3 separate regions of the Homo sapiens genome follow, and regions 1 and 3 are each linked to region 2. The links come from fine-mapping of genetic effects on gene expression. A gene starts in region 2. Each other region holds a variant in brackets. All regions are shown on one strand. Distances are between the middles of the regions. Region 1 overlaps LOC105369715 (a long non-coding RNA gene). Region 2 holds the start of TMTC1 (transmembrane O-mannosyltransferase targeting cadherins 1). Region 3 overlaps TMTC1 (transmembrane O-mannosyltransferase targeting cadherins 1).

Region 1 (4,353 bases), 180 kb after region 2:
TTAGACTGCATATTATTAACAGAATAATAATTAGAAAATCTCCAACTGATTGGAAGTTAAAAGCACATGTCTACATTTCATCATTAGTTCAAGTAAGAATCATGTTGGAAATTAGAAAATACTTTAAAGGAAGTGAAAATGAAGATGCAACATACTAAAATTGTTAAAGTGTAGCTAAAGAAGTGCTTAGAGTGAAATTTTAGTATTAAATGCATGTTAGAAAAGACAAAAGACTAAATTGGTGATTTGAAATTCCGTTTCAAGAAAATAAAAAAGATACAGCAAATCAAGCCCAAAGAAAGTAGACAAAGAGTAATAATAATAATAAATAAAATAAGAAATAACAATAATAATTCCTCTATCCTAGAAATGTATTTTAAAAGGCTGTATGTAAAATGGTTGGCACAGTGCCAGAAGCATAGTTAGGCTGCAATACACATTAGTTAGTTATTTTTATTACCAGCACAGCAACAAGAAAAATGGAAAGATCCATCTCATTTCTCTTCAGGGGCAACATGTGCTTTTGACAGTGTCTGTTTTCGTTGTGATATCCTCTTCCTAGTGGAAAATCAGCTCACAGAGCTTCTGGTGGAAATTTTAAGTGAGCATGGGAAGGAACAAGTGGAACTAACATTTATTGCCTCCTTCTATGTGCCAGACACTCTGCTAGGCACACTGCTCATGTTCTTTTATTCCACCCTTACAAGAACCTAGAGAGGTAGAGATTCATCAGCACATTTCACTTTGGCCACTGAGGCTTCTAGAGGTGAAGCATCTAACCCATCATTCAGCTGGTGAGGGCAGAGGCCGGATTTAGCCATCCGCCTGAGCTTAAACCCAGGGACATGCATGAAACTGAATCATCAAAGTATCCCTTTAGCTATGAGGTAAATGAATCCTGGCTAAATCAGTATATTCTTAGCTGCCTTCCCTTTTGGGTCCCAACCTGGGAGCATTGTTTTTATGCTTCCCTCAATCCCAAAAGCATTTAACATATATATTTGTGTGCATTTTGGAGTGACGTTGGCTTGGGACTAATCTTCCTCCAGCCCACCTCCAGACACTCACAGCAGCAGAGAACTGGCCCTTCATATGCAGGAGCAAGGCACAGTGTGGAAGGTGTCCTGCTGCCTGGGTGCAGAGCAGTGACCTCACCCAGCTGATGATAAAGGTATGAAGAGTCATTCCAATAGAGCAGGAGTGAAGGGGAGACACTCAGGACTAACGTTTCCTCAGGACCTACTCTGTTCCAGGCCACATGTGAGGTCTGTGTGTGAGCTGCATCTCCATGTCTGCTTCTCTATGACTAGACAGGGTCAGAACTTTCCATCTTTCCATTCCTCAGTTTCCAACTGGGGGGAGAGATGTTAAAGGTGGCTGAAGTTTGACTACGCACACAACATAGAGTGAGCACCCCACATCCTCCCATTGTTGCTACAGTGACCCGAATCTGATACTGTAATCCACTGGGGGTGGGAGGGCATGCAGGTAATCGATCACTTAATGGTAATTATAGTAAGTGTGATCTTCAGATTGAAAAAACAGAATTGTTCTTCAACACCACATAGTATGAATCTGTCCCCATACAGTTCTGTGTGGCTTCTGTAAAAGGTCAAAAGCTATAAAAAGCCAATAAACTGGATGCTATATTTCCATTGCATTGGCCAGAGATGTGATACACAGCCTATTATCCATTTTTTCTTTCTGTATGAAGAACGCATTCAGACTATATAGTAGAGTTATTAGAGAAAACGGATGCTTTAAGAAGATACCCTTCATCAGACTGTTTAGAATTTAAATCTCAAAATTTGGTATTTTAGAAAAGTACTAATATCTAATTTAATCAATAAGTTCATCTGTCAGACAAAAGAAAGCAATAATCTTTTTTGATTGAAAGCGACTTTGTTTTGTGATCCAGCCCCTCCTTCTACCACAAAAGAAAGACAACCAAGATGTAGTAATCTAGAGGGCTTCCCAGCATGCCAGGGTTGCTGCTGCCAAGCCCATGACCAAATCCTTTTATTTCTGCTACTGGCATTTCCTAAATTCTCCCCAAATGTCAATATTTTTACAAAACAAGCTATGTGCTGTCACTTTAAATAAATGTGTTAACAGCCTTAAATAGAAAGCTAAACACTTTATCTAAATTGATAAACTAACAAGTCATCATAACCAAAAGAAAATGTGAAGAAGCTGCTTTTGCTAAATTTCTTGTTCTTAAGACAGAGCCAGGGAACTGAGATGGTGCAAATGCTTTTAGTCATTCAACACATGAGAAAGAAGATTCACTGCTGATAACCAAAGGCAAAATTCCCTCTGAAACCCTCTGAAATATTTACTGGAAAAATTTGCACCGTGTGATCATAATCTAATTTCTAGTAATTGCTCCTTCTATAAAATCTATGATGGAGCTGTTCCTGGTCCCAGTACCCAGCTTTCAGAGATGTGACCTTTTGGAAGTCTCTGGGGGAAACACAGAGAGTGGGATGTAGAGGGTTGCTAGCAAAACATTGGGAAATATTTTATTTA[T/C]GTCATGATAGACATTTGGATTCATGGGACCAAGAGCATGATTATTTCTCACCTAACCAAAGGTGGACAATCAGAACAGAATTTTTATACGAAAGAAAAATTTATCTTGCCATTGCAACATTTCCCAGTGCCATGGTTCCCCCCCACCACCTCCTCTCATCACCAAGGCAACCAGAGTTATTATGGAAAGTCAGCCAGCCACTGTGCCCTTGGCTCACATTTCCACAGAGAAGTTTTTTTTTTTTTTTTCCTTCGTTAGCTCTTAGCATCTTGATACACTGTCTGTTATCAAGCATAAAATGATCAGGAGAATCCTACTTAGTAGTGTTTCTCAGAATGTAGTCTCAACCCCACTTACATCAGCATCATGTGTGAGGCTTACGAATGCTGATCCCCAGATCCCTTCCCCAGACCCGTTATATCATTGAGGGGCCTAGGGATATGCATTGTAACAGGCACTCCAAGTGATACTTAAGGCTCTAAAATGTAATAACTGCTGATATAAGGGAAAGGTCATAGAGGATTATAATTCCTTACCTATTCATGCTGTTTAACTGATAAGGAAATGCAGCTTTCTAGAGGGAAATCACATTGCTTTATGCCGGAGCAATTTATACTTTTAACCGCTTGTCTTGTTGAACCAGGATCCCTGGTTCCACCCAGTGCCAACTGAACACTCTTAACAAAAGTCCTGAGAGTCATTAGTGTGTTGTCCTCGATACCACATAGGGCAGAGATTAAAAAGCACATTTCACTTCAGCCACTGAGGTTCCTAGAGGTGAAGCATTTAACCCGTCATTCAGCTATGAGGGCAGATCCAGGATTTAGACAGCCACCACCCTAAGTCTAAACCTAGGGACATGCACTAAACTGCATCATCAAAGCATCCATTTAGCTGTGGGGTAAATGCAACCTGGCTAAATTGGGATATTCCTAACTGCCTTCTCATCCAGGTCCCAATGTCAGAGCATTGCTTTTATGCTTTTCCTCAGCCCTGAAAGAACGTAGCACATATATTTGCACACACTTTCAAGTGGCCCTGGCTTGGGACTTGTTTTTTCTCAGCTCACCTCACACACTCCTGGCACAGAACTGGCCACACATATGCAGAAGCAAGGAACAAGGACAGGTGTCCTGCTGCCTGAATGCAGAGCAGTGACCACACTGAGCTGATGATAAAGAAATCAAGAGCTATTCCAAAAGGAGTGAAGGAGAGGGACTCAAGAATAACATATCCTCAGGACCTACTCTACACCATGAATCATCAACGATTCAGGGCATTCTTTTCTCTGACTTCAGACCAAAGTGGGCCTGTGGCTGACTGGACAGAGTACGTACTGAAGTGTTATGTACTTGTATAGCCATTCAACCATTTTTATTGTATTTATTTTTTTCAATACATATGGCCTAGAGATTTCAGATGTTATTAATACGGAAAAACGACCATTAGACTTTGTTACCTATAACATTTACCTGGCCAATTAAGACAGTATTTTAGTTTACTACATTTTCTTTCTGACATCTGCTAATCCAGTTCAAATAGTTAATATGATACTCCTTACAGATGGAGTCTAAAACCATATTTGGCTTCTGGTTTTCTTTAATTATTTATTACATAGTCAAAATAAATGCATTAGGAAGTTTTAATGCAATCTGATACTATCCCAGAGGTGATCTGTATTGTCACAGTGAACAGTCATTCATATTATTAAGAAATTGCATAATCTTTTTCTGAAATTAAAAAAAAATTACAGGTACATAGTAGGTATATATTTTTATGGGGTACACGAAATACTTCGATACAGACCTGCAATAAGTAATAAT
Region 2 (4,000 bases):
ACCCCTCCCTTATGTGCCTGCTGTCTCCATTATGAAGAAAAATAAAACATTTTAGGTGAGGTACAGTAGCTCATGCCCACAAGTCCAGCACACTGGGAGGCTGAGGCTTAAAGATCGCTTAGCCCAGGAGTTCAACACCAGCCTAGACAACATAGGAAGACCCCATATCTACAAAAAAAATTTTAAAATATATCTGGATGCACGGCATGTGCCAGTAGTAGTTCCAGCTACTTGGGAGGCTGAGGCAGGAGAATTGCTTATGCCCAGAAGTTTCAGGCTACAGTGAGCAATAATCATGCCACTGCACTCCAGGCTGGAGGACAGAGTGAGATCCCATCCCAAAAAAGAAAAAAAGAGAAAAGACAGAGAAAAAAGAAGAAAACCTTCTAGAAAGTCAAGAAGTGAAAACACCCTTCCCTACTCTCCAGCAAGTAGGCACAGGCATTTGACTCTGCCCTTTTTAATTGAAAAATACTCAGACCTGTGACCAGGATGGTCTCCATGGCTGTTACAAAGATAGCAAGCACATCTCATGCTGTGAACTTGCACATCCTAAATTAACCAACAACCCTGACTGTAATAATGAAAAAGCAGGTCAATCTAGAAGTGAAACATTTATATTTGTCCCAAGGAGATTTTAAGAAACATCTGGGAAACTGAATAGCGAGGTTAGCCAAGGTTATCTTTCAGTAGAAAACGAGAACAACTTTCTAAGAGAACAAATGTCTATAACACATTCTCTTCAAAGTCAAATATGTAATTTTCTCACTCTCCTTAAAAACATTAAACTTTCAGTGGAAGACGTAAGTCAAAAGCCCATGAATTGTTGCCGATTGCTATGGTTTCCTTTTCTGAGTCATCAGAGACACCTGTCAAGAGGCCTCAGCCTCTCATCCAGAGCAGGCTTTTCAAGCTGCCAACCCAGTCTCAAATAATCATTACCATAAACACGGGTTCCTATTACACCCGTTGCAAAAAGGCTTAAAACGCCGATAATAGCGCACCAATATTATTTCAACAGTTTTGACCGGCGCGTTAAAATGAACTTCAATGCTGAGCCACATTATAAAGGGTTGAGTCAAGCTCCTGATTGTGTAAGATAGCATTTCCCTTAAATGAGCACTTCTCTTCTTTCCTCAGAAGCTAGGCTTCTTTTCAAATTAAAGAAAATACTCCACCCCTCAAAAACCTGGCATATTCTCGGTTCCCTTTACGCTTATTCACACCAGAAACGCTGAATCATGACTCCGAGGTTGTAAAAGAAAAACTATTTCGGCTGGGGCCCCAGGGTCCCTGGAGAAGCCTAGGCTCTGCGTTACCTCTCTCTGCACCTTCTAAAGTCTAGATCCAGAGAAGTCTGGCAGATTGGAGAGCCTCTGGGAGCAGCCAAGGGTGCAAGGCGGGGGCTGGGGGGCTCGGGAGAGTTTTCTGCTCCCTCTCCTGAACCCACGCAGCCCTGTCAGCTCAAGGCTCCCGCCTCGTCTCATCTGAACGAAACCCTTAAGGGGCTGATACACTTCTCATCTGCAAAGCTGCCCAACAGCCTCCGAGAAATTCTCTACTTGGAAGCATCGCCACCACCGCCACCCCTCCGGAACCCTCTGGGTCCGCGCTAGTCCCACTTGGTCACGATCCGGCAGGCGAAGGGGTGCGGAGGCGGTTTCACCAGCCCGCTCCCAGCCCTGCCTCGAGAGAGAAGCCCGCTGAGAGGGCAGACAGTTGAGAAACTCGATCCCAACTCCCCAGCCGGCGCCTCCCGAACCGCCCCGAGAGCCCAGATTAGCCGGGCAGTGGATCCCGGAGCAAAGTGCCATGCACATCCTGGAGAGGAGGGAGGCGTGGAGGGAAAGGGCGGCAAAAATGAAATGCCCCCAAGTCAGTCCCGCAACTTCTCCCGGTCCGAGGGACGGGCGGAGGGTAGAGGAGGCAGCGGCGGCTAGCGCGAGGTGAGGGACTCACTTGAAGGTGAGGACGCAGAGCGGCCGGTAGGACTTGTGGCTGGTGTTCTCGGCCATGCCCTTGCCCCAGAAGTCGTTGGTGAAGATGCCCCAGCGGAGCGGGGCGCCGGGCCGCACGTCGGGGTTGTTCACGATCGCCCACACGTCGTCGTGCACGAACTCGCCCTGCAGGGAGCGGCCGTAGCACAGGCAGCTTGCCCCGGCCAGCAGCGCCGCGGCCCCGGCCGGCGCTAGCCCGCAGCCCCGCCGCCGGGAGGGTGTGCGGTCCCCGCCGCCGCCTCGGGCAGAGGTGGTCACCACCATCGCGCCGCCGCCGCCGCTGCTGCCCTGGCCTCTCCCGGGCGTCTGGCATCCTCCCCTACCGGGGCCCCGGCGGCGCGCGGCGTCTGCCCGGAGGGGGGCTCGGGCATGGTGCTGCGGCAGCTGGACCCGCCGCGAGCTCCCCGCGCTCCGCCGCCGCCTGCGCCGCGGAGTTGGCCCAGCTGCAAATAAACAGCAGTCCCCCCGCCTCCCCCGGCCATCGCCACCTCCTCCGCCCCACTGCGCATGCCCGCTCGCTCTCTCTTCCACCGCCCCCCAATCCCGGGACGCGGGCCGGTTCCCCCGCACAGCCCGGCGCCCTCTGCCCCCGGCCCGCCTTGCTTGCAGGTGGACCGGGGTTCGCGGCGCGCGGCTGCCCGGGAGCTGCGGGGAAGGACACCCCAGGTTCCCACTTGCGGTGTCCGGCTGTGCTCACCCCCACGCCCCCGCCCCCATCCTTCTCCCCCGAATGGGGCTGGGAAGGGGCACATCTGGCGGACCCCTCCCGGGGGACCCAGGAGGGTTTAGCAGGTGCGCAGTCTGGAACCCCCACACCCACCTTCCAGGGAGAAAAGTGCCGCTGCTTCCCGGGAAGTTCCCGGCTTTTCAGCACCCGGGACAACAGCAGCGGCGCCCGGAGAGACGCTCTCCACCCGCCCCGCGCTCGCGTCCAGTCGCCGGCTCTGTGCTCTCCTGCCCGGGCTTTCTCTCACCCGCCCGGCGCGGCGTCCCGCTTGGCGGAGGAACCCGCGGGGATAGGGAGCACCTTCCTCAAAGCCAGGAGAAGGGGTCTCCCTGGACAAGGACATCCTGCTCGCCCTGCCCGGGTGTGTTCAGAGGCGCCACCGGCTCTTTAACTTTACAGCCCCTTTCTTGGCCCGCACTTACAAAAAGTACCAGGTTCGAGTTTTGGTTTGGGCCTGGGAGCCGAATTGTCTTCTGAAACATTTCTTATTTTATTGTTTGCTCAAGATAATTTGGGAGATGCCAAGCAAACTACTTTTTCTATCTAGCTGGATCACTTGGGTCTCATTATTTCCTGGGCTGTGGGCGTGTTTGAACAGGGCGGGGAAGAAGGTGGGGATGGGGGGATGGGGAGGTGGGGGCGATTTGTATTAGGGCCTCTGGCTTTGGCTCCTAAACTTCCTGTCTTTCTGAAAGATTGTTTTCTTTTTTAAAATACTAATTTTAATAATATGTCCCAGAGTGATGATTACTAGAATTTCTCCAGGTCTGAAAATTCTATTTGTTCTTTCAGGCACCTTCTAAATTTCCATTGCTGAGTGTTAGAAGTTATCAGGAATTTGACACATCCAGATAGAAAAACTGAAAATAAAAAGTCACCCTTTTATTCTCATCCTCCCCAAACCCTTAAAAAGCTCACCGACATAATCCAGAAATTGTTCCTCTGCTATGAGTATTTGTGTGGCTCTTTACTATAACAACTTACTTTTTAAAAAATTTTAAGACATCTGAGCAGTTGAAAAGTCAATGAATTAAGATAAACTTATTGTAACTCAAAGTACGTTTCACCCATTTTCACTTTGTTTATTTGGTGACTTGAAATTAGTGACTGAGAAATGAAACTGGAAGTCCTGGACATGGATGTTTTCATTCTTCCATCAAAATCTTTCACGCTTGGTAACCTTAATATACCGACTTTAATATCTAGACACACCTGAGTCTATTTCCCCGTATAACACACTACAGCCTTTCCTATTCACCTATTAACTTAATAAAAA
Region 3 (4,353 bases), 200 kb before region 2:
CAATTGTTTGCCCCCAAAGAATAAGTGTTGGGTACCAGCTAATCAGGAAACCAAGAAAAAAATCATGGTGACTAAATTGACCAATCAGGTCATAAGTGAGGACAGAAGCTTGGAAGAGGCCCAGACTGGGGATTCCTGGAAGACTGGGCAAATATTGTTTGGGTGTCAGGTGTGGCAGTGCCAAGAGAGCCAGGCGAAGGTCGCCAGGGCTGCGGCATTTAGTGAGGCTGACTAAGCCCCAGAAACACAGCATCATGAATGGCAGTCTCAAAGAATGTTCAAAATTAATGTTCAAAATAAAGCAACTAGGTCACAGATCACAGCGTATCATGCTGGAATATTCTAAAGAAGGATACTGCATTTCTCTTCCCTCTGGCTGTGTGCTCACTTTTCACATGCACTTCTTGGTTTCATTTTGTTTATAGCTGATTTTACAGCCCTGCTCATCATTAAAACTGTTTCCATCTGAATTCACAGACTCAAAAACTTTCCCAGGAGCCTTATTTTCATAAATTCACTTAGAAAGAGCTCATGTTAAGTTTTATATATCATTTTAAAAATCTAAAGTTAAAACCCCACATAAAATTACATCTTCCATTTAAAACTTTATTAAAGATAATTTTCCTTAGTAAATACTGCCAGGCCCATGTTACCTCATTTGTTTGGAAACAATTTGTAAGCAAAGAAATAAACAGGAAGATATTTATTTTTATCTGTCTAGTCATACCTGAATAGGGACTCTCTTGACAGCCAAATTTCATTCTGTTTCACAGTTTTCCAAGAGAAAAGCAACAGCAGCAACACAGTGGACACAATCAGGGTGGTGGCCCCACATCGATTCAGCCAAGTGCAGAGCTTGCTCAGTCCATGCACAAAAAGGATGCAGTAGCCCATGCTGGAAAACAGGGTGGAAGGAACGGGATTACTTTGGGGGTGCAATAGCTTCCCCCCAGAATTATCTCCTACAAAACTAACTTTCAAATGAAGCTTGTCCTGTGCTAGAGAAACAAATAGAAACTCCCCTGCCTTGGACAATATTAACATGTTAGTTCTCTAAAGTGCTGCACTAGCAGGTTTGCTATTTCTTGTAGAAATATTTCTTGCTATTTCTTCAGTGTAGGGAATGAGAGAGTCATCTTGTAGGCTTAAAGTGCCCTGGATTTCAGCAGCTGAGGCATCATGAGAAGTCCCACATATAAGCTCTTGGGTCCTGAATGGCTCCTCTGACCCAAGCTCCCTCATGTCACTGTCATTGTATGACTCTATTGGCACTATGCGCCTAAATTCGGAGTTTATGCTGCAGCAGGTCACACCACAGCTTTGTAGGGAGAGTGTCTGAAAGCTCTGTGTCAGGTCCTGGAAGGATGCTGGTCACCAAGGAGGACTGTTCTCTGTTTCCAGGGCCAGCTGAAGCCCTTACACTTTGGAAAATCTACCCACAGGCCGACTCCTGAGCCTCACAACTTGGAGCTCATCACAGACAAGATGCATTGATATGCCTAGCTGTACCGGTAGGTGCAGGGTTAACATGTTATCTGAGTAGCACTTTGTATATCAGCATTACGTCTCTAAAAGCCTTTGGCTTGGTGCTACATGGTCCCTCACATCATCTATGCACCAACAGAGATACTTTCTGCCTGCCACTTGGACACAGAAGAATATAAACTTGTAGTTTGTACCCATTAATGCTGTATGTATTTTAGTTGAAATCTATTTTTATTTTATTTTATTTTTTCTTACTTCTTCTTTTATTCTTTTTTT[T/A]AAATTTTATTATTATTATACTTTAAGTTTTAGGGTACATGTGCACAATGTGCAGGTTTGTTACATATGTATACATGTGTCACGTTGGTGTGCTGCACCCATTAACTCGTCATTTAGCATTAGGTATATCTCCTAATGCTAGCCCGCCCCGCTTCCCCGACCCCACAACAGTCCCGGTGTGTGATGTTCCCCTTCCTGTGTCCATGTTGTCATTGTTCAGTTCCCAGCTATGAGTGAGAACATGCGGTGTTTGGTTTTTTGTCCTTCTGATAGTTTGCTGAGAATGATGGTTTCCAGCTTCATCCATGTCCCTACAAAGGACATGAACTCATCATTTTTTATGGCTGCATAGTATTCCATGGTGTATATGTGCCACATTTTCTTAATCCAGTCTATCATTGTTGGACATTTGGGTTGGTTCCAAGTCTTTGCTATTGTGAATAGTGCCACAATAAACATACGTGTGCATGTGTCTTTATAGCAGCATGATTTATAATCCTTTGGGTATATACCCAGTAATGGGATGGCTGGGTCAAATGGTATTTCTAATTCTAGATCCCTGAGGAATCGCCACGCTGACTTCCACAATGGTTGAACTAGTTTACAGTCCCACCAACAGTGTAAAAGTGTTCCTATTTCTCCACATCCTCTCCAGCACCTGTTGTTTCCTGACTTTTTAATGATCGCCATTCTAACTGGTGTGAGATGGTATCTCATTGTGGTTTTGATTTGCATTTCTCTGATGGCCAGTGATGATGAGCATTTTTTCATGTGTTTTTTGGCTGCATAAATGTCTTCTTTTGAGAAGTACCTGTTCATATCCTTTGCCCACTTTTTGATGGGGTTGTTTGTTTTTTTCTTGTAAATTTGTTTGAGTTCATTGCAGATTCTGGATATTAGCCCTTTGTCAGATGAGTAGGTTGCAAAAATTTTCTCCCATTCTGTAGGTTGCCTGTTTACTCTGATGGTAGTTTCTTTTGCTGTGCAGAAGCTCTTTAGTTTAATTAGAACCCATTTGTCAATTTTGGCTTTTGTTGCCATGGCTTTTGGTGTTTTAGACATGAAGTCCTTGCCCGTGCCTATGTCCTGAATGGTATTGCCTAGGTTTTCTTCTAGGGTTTTTATAGTTTTAGGTCTAACATGTAAGTCTTTAATCCATCTTGAATTAATTTTTTGTATAAGATGTAAGGAAGGGATCCAGTTTCAGCTTTCTACATATGGCTAGCCAGTTTTCCCAGCACCATTTATTAAATAGGGAATCCTTTCCCCATTGCTTTTTGTCAGGTTTGTCAAAGATCAGATAGTTGTAGATATGCAGCATTATTTCTGAAGGCTCCATTCTGTTCCATTGGTCTATATCTCTGTTTTGGTACCAGTACAATGCTGTTTTGGTTACTGTAGGCTTGTAGTATAGTTTGAAGTCAGGTAGCGTGATGCCTCCAGCTTTGTTCTTTTGGCTTAGGACTGACTTGGAAATGTGGGCTCTTTTTTGGTTCCATATGAACTTTAAAGGAGTTTTTTCCAATTCTGTGAAGAAAGTCATTGGTAGCTTGATGGGGATGGCATTGAATCTATAAATTACCTTGGGCAGTATGGCCATTTTCACGATATTGATTCTTCCTACCCATGAGCATGGAATGTTCTTCCATTTCTTTGTATCCTCTTTTATTTCATTGAGCAGTGGTTTGTAGTTCTCCTTGATGAGGTCCTTCACATCCCTTGTAAGTTGGATTCCTAGGTATTTTATTCTCTTTGAAGCAATTGTGAATGGGAGTTCACTCATGATTTGGCTCTCTGTCTGTTATTGGTGTATAAGAATGCTTGTGATTTTTGTACATTGATTTTGTATCCTGAGACTTTGCTGAAGTTGCTTATCAGCTTAAGGAGATTTTGGGCTGAGATGATGGGGTTTTCTAGATATACAATCATGTCATCTGCAAACAGGGACAATTTGACTTCCTCTTTTCCTAATTGAATATCTTTTATTTCCTTCTCCTGCCTGATTGCCCTGGCCAGAACTTCCAACACTATGTTGAATAGGAGTGGTGAGAGAGGACATCCCTGTCTTGTGCCAGTTTTCAAAGGGAATGCTTCCAGTTTTTGTCCATTCAGTATGATATTGGCGTGGGTTTGTCATAGATAGCTCTTATTATTTTGAGATACATCCCATCAATACCTAATTTATTGAGAGTTTTTAGCATGAAGGGTTGTTGAATTTTGTCAAAGGCCTTTTCTGCATCTATTGAGATAATCATGTGGTTTTTGTCTTTGGTTCTGTTTACATGCTGGATTACGTTTATTGATTTTCGAATGTTAAACCAGCCTTGCATCCCAGGAATGAAGCCCACTTGATCATGGTGGATAAGCTTTTTGATGTGCTGCTGGATTCGGTTTGCCAGTATTTTATTGAGGATTTTTGCATCAATGTTCATCAAGGATAGTGGTCTAAAATTCTCTTTTTTTGTTGTGTCTCTGCCAGGCTTTGGTATCAGGATGATGCTGGCCTCATAAAATGAGTTAGGGAGGATTCCCTCTTTTTCTATTGATTGGAATAGTTTCAGAAGGAATGGTACCAGCTCCTCCTTGTAACTC

The links. PIP is the estimated chance that this variant, and not a neighbour inherited with it, causes the effect. A credible set is the group of variants that fine-mapping cannot tell apart.
Region 1: its variant is the best candidate, but not a certain one, in a credible set for the expression of TMTC1 in tibial artery (GTEx, PIP 0.78).
Region 3: its variant is the best candidate, but not a certain one, in a credible set for the expression of TMTC1 in whole blood (INTERVAL, PIP 0.63).

The regions. Positions count from the first base shown.
Region 1 is chr12:29,957,621-29,961,973 of GRCh38, forward strand. All of the region lies in intron 3 of LOC105369715 (a long non-coding RNA gene), which reads right to left. Among named protein-coding and RNA genes, the nearest start is that of TMTC1, 180 kb to the left of the region's middle. The variant T/C (reference allele first, on the strand shown) is at 2,530.
Region 2 is chr12:29,781,491-29,785,490 of GRCh38, forward strand. TMTC1 (transmembrane O-mannosyltransferase targeting cadherins 1) reads right to left here and starts at 2,452. Exons shown (of 18, transcript NM_001193451.2): 1 at 1,960-2,452. The coding sequence starts at 2,261.
Region 3 is chr12:29,582,680-29,587,032 of GRCh38, forward strand. It overlaps TMTC1 (transmembrane O-mannosyltransferase targeting cadherins 1), which reads right to left. Exons shown (of 18, transcript NM_001193451.2): 8 at 728-895. Among named protein-coding and RNA genes, the nearest start is that of OVCH1, 87 kb to the left of the region's middle. The variant T/A (reference allele first, on the strand shown) is at 1,762.